Linked DNA regions of Homo sapiens. The protein of the gene in region 1 purifies or fractionates together with the protein of each later gene. This does not show direct contact. Each region holds a gene or a part of one and is shown in the gene's direction. Other genes may lie near its edges.

Region 1 (3,655 bases):
AACCATGAATGCATATGTCTTATGTCTACAATTTCAGCTACCTCTGACTTTTGAGGATGTTGCTATTTATTTCTCCGAGCAAGAATGGCAGGATCTAGAGGCATGGCAGAAGGAACTTTACAAGCATGTGATGAGAAGCAATTATGAGACTCTCGTCTCTCTAGGTAAGACCTGTTCACCTTTGTGGGTAGGTCATGGAACTGGATCCTGTAAGGGGTCACAGTCACTTGATGCTCCTGTTTCTCAGGTAGCAAGATTTCTCAGAAATTAACTCAGAAGGGTATTTTTACCCTGCAATCTATTGTTAATACTTTTGTCAACATTGTTAATCTTTACTCAAGGGTAGACATTGTTACATGAGAATATTTGAACAATGTAAGGTGGTCCGGGTGACTAAATATTATTTATGAGGGGCCTTTAGTCATGACTATCAGGATGCCATGATTGTCCACATAGGAGCACACCTAGCGCACATTCATGAAGTGCTCTGTATATCTTTAACCTAGGATGTCCCCACCTCACAGCTTTTACAGTGGGGTCTAAATACTTCAGAAAAGCTATTTTGGAAGGGTGTACAATGAAGTGTTTGTTTTTTTGAGACATAGTCTCACTCTGTCGCCCAGGCTGGAGTCTTGGCTGACTGTAACCTCTGCCTTCCGGGTTCAAGCAGTTCTCCTGCCTCAGCCTACCGAGTAACTGGGACTACAGGTGCGTGCTGCCATGCCCGGCTAATTTTTGTATTTTTAGTAGAGACAGGGTTTCACCATGTTGGACAGGATGGTCTTAATCTCCTGACCTCGTGATCCACCCACCTCGGCCTCCCAAAGTGCTGGATTACAGGCGTGAGCCACTACGCCTGGCCTGAAGTGTTTTAAGAGTAGCTGTCTGCTGGGCGCGGTGGCTCACGCCTGTAATCCCAGGACTTTGGGAGGCCGAGGCAGGTGGATCACGAGGTCAAGAGATCAAGAACATCCTGGCCAACATGGTGAAACCCCGTCTCTACTAAAAATACAAAAATTAGCTGGGCGTGGTAGCGGGCGCCTGTAGTCCCAGCTACTCAGGAGACTGAGGCAGGAGAATCACTTGAACCTGGGAGGCGGGGGTTGCAGTGAGCTGAGATCACGCCACTGCACTCCAGCCTGGCAACAGAGTGAGACTCCGTTCCAAAAAGGAAAAAAAAAAAAAAAAAAAGAGTAGCTGTCTCTGCCTGGGTATGGTATTGGATGTCCTTTTTGCTTATTTGGTTTTTATATTTCATTTATCAAATATCATTTTTAAAAAATCAGTCTGTTCAGAGAAGCATCAAGTGAAAGATCGAAGTCTCCTGTTTCATTCTTTTTTTTTTTGAGACGGAGTCTGGCTCCGTCGCCCAGGCTGGAGTGCAGCGGCGGGATCTCAGCTCACTGCAAGCTCCGCCTTACGGGTTCACGTCATTCTCCTGCCTCAGCCTCCCGAGTAGCTGGGACTACAGGCGCCCACCACTGCACCCGGCTAATTTTTTTGTATTTTTAGTAGAGACAGGGTTTCACCGTGTTAGCCAGGATGGTCTCGATTTCCTGACCTCGTGATCCGCCCTCCTCAGCCTCCCGAAGTGCTGGGATTACAGGCGTGAGCCACCACGCCCAGCCCGTTTCATTCTTATCTCCACATTCAGTTAACCACGTGAGGGCAACCACTTTTAACCATTTTTGTTTTAGTTTTTAAAGTGGCTTCCTCCAATCTAAATACGCTTCCAATAACTTGATTTATCGAGTTTAGACAGAATTAATTACTATGAAAAATTAGGCATTAGTTCACTTATACAATCCCTCTTCTATCATCTTCTCCCCAGTTTTTGATAGTTTTTGTGCCTCTGTTGGTCAGCTTTATAATTTAAAATAATATGTTTAAGATTCTAGATTGTATTCCATCATTTTCATCTGACTCATTCAGTATATAAAGATAATTAGTTCTCTAGTATTTCTCTTCATCTCTTCTGCCAGTTGACAACAGCCATACCACTTCCTTTATATTGCAAAGTTTCTAATATTTATATTCTGTTCTGTTACCATAGTTAACTTTTTTTTTTTTGAGACGGAGTTTCACTCTTGTTGCCCAGGCTGGAGTGCAATGGCACCATGTCGGCTCACCGCAGCCTCCGCCTCCTGGGTTCAAGCAATTCTCCTGCCTCAGCCTCCTGAGTAGCTGAGATTACAGGCATGCGCCACCACGCCCTGCTAATTTTATATTTTTAGTAGAGACGGGGTTTCTCCATGTTGGTCAGGCTGGTCTCAAACTCCCGACCTCAGGTGATTCACCCACCTTGGTCTCCCAAAGTGCTGGGATTACAGGCATGAGCCACCGTGCCTGGCCTACCATAGTTAACTTTTGCAGGCTGTATGTATGGATTGTTTCTAAAACATATAACTGAAAACATTACATTATTTTCATTGTTACTGAAGAATCAGTTACAGTAAATGAATCTATAGAGGCAAAAATATAATTCTATGCCATTAACCCTGTGCCAGCCTAATAAGAATGTTCCAAGCATCAAGATCAAATGGATTCTCTTTTTTTCATTCTTATCAGTTGTTCAAAATTATGCTACATTTTGGCCAGGTGTGGTGGCTCACGCCTGTAATCCCAGCACTTTTGGAGGCTGAGGTGGGTGGATCACTTGAGGTCAGAAGTTTGACACCAGCCTGGCCGACATGGTGAAACCCCATCTCTACTAAAAATACAAAAATTAGCTGGGTGTGGTTGTGCATGCCTGTAATCCCAGCTACTTGGGAGGCTGAGGGAGGAGAATCACTTGAACCCAGGAGGCGGAGGCTACAGTGAGCCGAGATCACGCCATTGCACTCCAACCTGGGCAACAGTGAGACTTCATCTCAAAAAAAAAAAAAAAGACAAAATTATGCTACATTTTAATTTGTTTCGCTGTTGGGCCACAACTGTTTCTCATGCTTTCATCATATCCTTGTGATTATCCATCATCGTCATCATGTTGCCCAGGCTGGTCTCGAATTCTTGAGGTCAAGTGATCCACCTGCCTTGGCCTCCCCAAGTTCTGGGATTACAGTCGTGAGCCACTGTGGCCGGCTAGGAGAACACCCATCTTCTTTTATTTATTTATTTATTTATTTTTGAGAAGGAGTCTCCCTCTGTCGCCCAGGCTGGAGTGCTGTGGCGCAATCTCAGCTCACTGCAAGCTCCGCCTCCCGGGTTCACACCATTCTCCTGCCTCAGCCTCCCGAGTAGCTGGGACTACAGGCGCCCGCCACCACGCCTGGCTAATTGTTTTGTATTTTTAGTAGAGACGGGGTTTCACCGTGTTTGCCAGGATGGTCTCGATCTGCTGACCTCATGATCCACCCGCCTTGGCCTCCCAAAGTGCTGGGATTACAGGCGTGAGTCACCACGCCTGGCCACCCATCTTCTTAATCTAATAGTCAGTTACATGGATCTTTCTGCCTTCTGTCAATTCTCTCCCCAAATGAATCTATAGATTCAAAGCAAGTCCAGTCAGAATCCCAATAGAGCTTTCTGCGGAATTTGATAAGCTGATCCTAAAGAACATGGGAGAACCAAGACAAGAATAATGAAGACAGTCTTATGGAACAAGATGGAACGTGACTGATTGTCTTATCAGATAGCAAGACTTATTATGTGGTAC
Region 2 (3,655 bases), on another chromosome or scaffold:
CTGCAAACCTGATAAACTTGTTTATTCATTCTAGTAGGGTTTTTTTGTGGGTTCCTTAGGATTTTTTAAGGTACAGGATCATGTCATCTGTGAATAAGGATGCTTTACTTCTTCCTTTAGAATCTGAATGCTATTAATTAATTTGCCTTATTGTGCTAGCTATAGCTTCCAGTACAATGTTGAATAGCAGTGTGAGACTGAATATTCTTTCCTTGTTCCTGATCTTAGGGGGATAATATTCAGTCCTTCACCAGTAATTATCATGTTAGCTGTAGGTTTTTCATAGGTGTCCTTATAAGGTTGAGAATGCTCCCTCTATTCCTAGTTTATTGAGAGTTTTTATTAGGAATTAGTGTTGAATTTTGTCAAATGCTTTTTCTGCATCTATTGAAATGATATATGGCTCTTTTCCTTTATTTTATCAATATGGAGTATTATATTAACCAATTTTTGGTTGCCAAACCAACCTTGCATTCCAGGGATAAATCCTCATTGTGGTTGAAGCCCATTAAATTCCTATAACTTGCACTGACTTTTGTAAGTTAATTGTAGTTTCAAATTTCTTTAAGGACTAGAATTGTCATTTTTTTTTTTTTTTTTGGTTGCGGGGTGGGGCGGGGGACGGAGTTTCACTCTTGTTGCCCAGGCTGCAGTGCAATGGCACGATCTTGGCTCGCCACAGCCTCCGCCTCCCGGGTTCAAGTGATTCTCCTGCCTCAGCCTCCTGAGTAGCTGGGATTACAGGCATGTGCCACCACGCCTGGCTAATTTATTGTATTCTTAGTAGAGATGGGGTTTCTCCATGTTGGTCAGGCTGGTCTCCAACTCCCGACCTCAGGTGATCTGCCTGCCTTGGCCTCCCAAAGTGCCGGGATTATAGGCATGAGCCACCGCACCCAGTCTAAGAACTAGAATTGTCATTTCTAAGTAACACTTCAAAATAAGTAAACTTATTGTTTTCACCAGCCACTGTTATTGAGTAGATCATTGATATTGGGAAATAAATTTGTGCTATATTTTGAATGTTAAATTTTAGGCTAGGTCATGGTGGCCCACACCTGTAATCTGAGCACTTTTGGAGGTTGAGGTGAGTGGATCACCTGAGGTTAGGAGTTCGAGACCAGCCTGGACAACATGGTGAAACCTTGTCCCTACTAAAAATACAAAAATTAGCTGGGCATGGTGGTGGGTGCTTGTGATCCCAGCTACTCAGGAGGCTGAGGCAGGAGGTGGGAGGCAGAGGTTGCAGTGAGCCAAGATTGCACCATTGCACTCCGGCCTGGGCGACGGGTAAAACTCCATCTCAAAAAACAAAAACAAAAAAGAATTTATAGGAAAATACTAAAAGTAATATCCTCTGCATTTATAGCCTATGGACCAGCTCTCATTGAACACTGTCTTTTAGAAAATGGATTCTCGGGTAATGTCAAAGTGGATGAAAAACTTGAAACTAAAGGTATGTCTGCATGGTACATTTTTCATTTATTTCATTTTTTTTAAACTATGAAAATTTTTTCTGGGAAAGTAATAAGGGAGCAGGTGGTTCTAGAATGAAAAACATTTGACCAGGCACACTGGCTCATGCCTGCAATCCCAGCACTTTGGGAGGCTAAGGTGGGAGGATCACTTAAGCCTGGGTGTTTGAGGCTGCAGTGGGTGGTGACTGCACAGCTGCACTCCAGCCTGAGCAACAGAGTGAGACCCCCATCTCAAAAAACCCCACAAAAACAAGTATCACCACTCTCAAAAAAAAAAATTGAATGAGATTTTAGTGAATGTTTTAGTTTCTGCAATATACTAAATCAGTGCACTCATAAAATGACAACAGGTGCTGGTGGTGGTGTTTTGTTTTTGTTTGTTTTTATAAAATGACTCTGATGTTTATATGGAGCAAAAGCATGTGAAAATGTTCAGGATAACTCTGGAAAATACTAGTAATGATTTATTACTGTCTGTGTAACCCTTCACAGATTAAAATATGAAGCTATAGTAATTAAAACTGTAAGTTTTTGGAGAAGGAATAGCATAAAGATTCCAAAAATAATTTGAAATAATATGGGAATTTAGTTTATGAACAAAGTTCCTTTCAGGTCATGGAGGGAAAGGTGGATGATTCAATAAAAGCTACTTGGACAACAGGCTGTTCAAAATGAAACCATATATCCACATATACTGGTTATAAACATGAAATCACTATCTCTAATTTTCTTGAACGCAACATTATTTTGTAAGCACTTTCCTGTTTTTCTACATAGTTGTTTAGCCACGGTTAATTGACACTTGATTGGCACTCCTTTTTTCCTTTTTTTCCCCCACCATTAGATATTGAAAAAGTACTTGTTTCTCTGCAGAAAGCAGAAGACTATATGAAAACAACATCCAACTTCAGTGGGAAGGTAGCACCATGTATACTTACTATATATTGTTGTGATTTATTTGGGTTTTCAGAAATTAAACGTTCATTAAAGGATCATTATATATACATTTTATTTTAATTTGGAAAATTGTTATCTGTAATATGCTTATTCCAGGATAGTTTTTTTGTTTTGTTTTTTGAGACAGTCTTGCTCTGTTACCCAGGCTGGAGTGCAGTGGCATGATCTTGGCTCATTGCAACCTCTGCTTCCCTGGTTGAAGTGATTCTCCTGTCTCAGCCTCCCGAGTAGCTGGGACTACAGGCACGTGCCACCATGCCTGGACAGTTTTTATATTTTCAGTAGAGATGAGGTTTCACCGTGTTGGCCAGGCTGGTCTCGAACTCCTGACCTCAAGTGATCCGCCTGCCTTGGCCTCCCAAAGTGCTGGGATTATAGACATGGGCCACTGCACCCGGCCCAGGATAGTGTTTTAAAAGTTTTTGTTGGTTTATAAGTTTTTTTCTGTTCCCTATCTTTTATAGAAAGTACAATGTCAGGTTAGTATCGGCTCTTCAGAAAAGTTGAGGAATTTACAGTTATTTCTTTAGTTTCAGATAGAGAAGCACATTTTCATTTGTCAGCCCTTTTCAAAAATGTTGTGATTTACAGCTCCCAACCATTAAATATTTTTTGAATTACCTAGTAGCTTATGAGTGTTTTTCTTCCCTTTTCAAAGCATAACTATTTATAGAAAATTAAAATTAATATCAGTCATAGAAAGTAAACCTTTGGATTAGGTGCAAATTAATATCAGTCACAGAAACTAAATTTTTAGGTGCAGTGGCTCACACCTGTGATCTCAGCACTTTTGGAGGCCAAGGTGGGCGGATCACTTGAGACCAAGAGTTCGACACCACCCTGGCCATCATGGCAAAACCCCTGTCTCTACTAAAAATACAAAAATTAGCCAGGTATGGTGGCACACACCTGTAATCCCAGCTACTTGGGAGGCTGAGGCATGAGAATTGCTTGAACCCGGGAGGCAGAGGTTGCAGTGAGCCGAGAATATACCACTGCACTCCAGCCTGGGTGATGGAGCGAGCGCGACTGTATCAAAAAAAAAAAAAAGAAGTAAATCTTTGTTAATTATGAATAGGAATGATTTTAATGTTGCATTTTTGTAGGGATATATCATTCAGAAAAGAGAAATAAAACCAAGCTTGGAAGCAGATAAACCAGTTGAAGACATACTGACGTAAGCATATAGGCATGGGTCAATTTGCTTTGGATGTTTGTTA

What was found.
Region 2: the proteins of ZNF786 (region 1) and NEMF purify together in Homo sapiens (affinity purification with mass spectrometry; one large-scale study listed by BioGRID and IntAct). This does not show direct contact.

What each region holds. Positions count from the first base shown.
Region 1 is NC_000007.14:149,077,100-149,080,754, reverse strand, and holds part of ZNF786 (zinc finger protein 786), read left to right. Parts: intron 1-37; coding exon 38-164; intron 165-3,655. UniProt on the Homo sapiens protein: May be involved in transcriptional regulation.
Region 2 is NC_000014.9:49,832,164-49,835,818, reverse strand, and holds part of NEMF (ribosome quality control complex subunit NEMF), read left to right. Parts: intron 1-1,369; coding exon 1,370-1,456; intron 1,457-2,322; coding exon 2,323-2,396; intron 2,397-3,541; coding exon 3,542-3,612; intron 3,613-3,655. UniProt on the Homo sapiens protein: Key component of the ribosome quality control complex (RQC), a ribosome-associated complex that mediates the extraction of incompletely synthesized nascent chains from stalled ribosomes as well as their ubiquitin-mediated proteasomal degradation.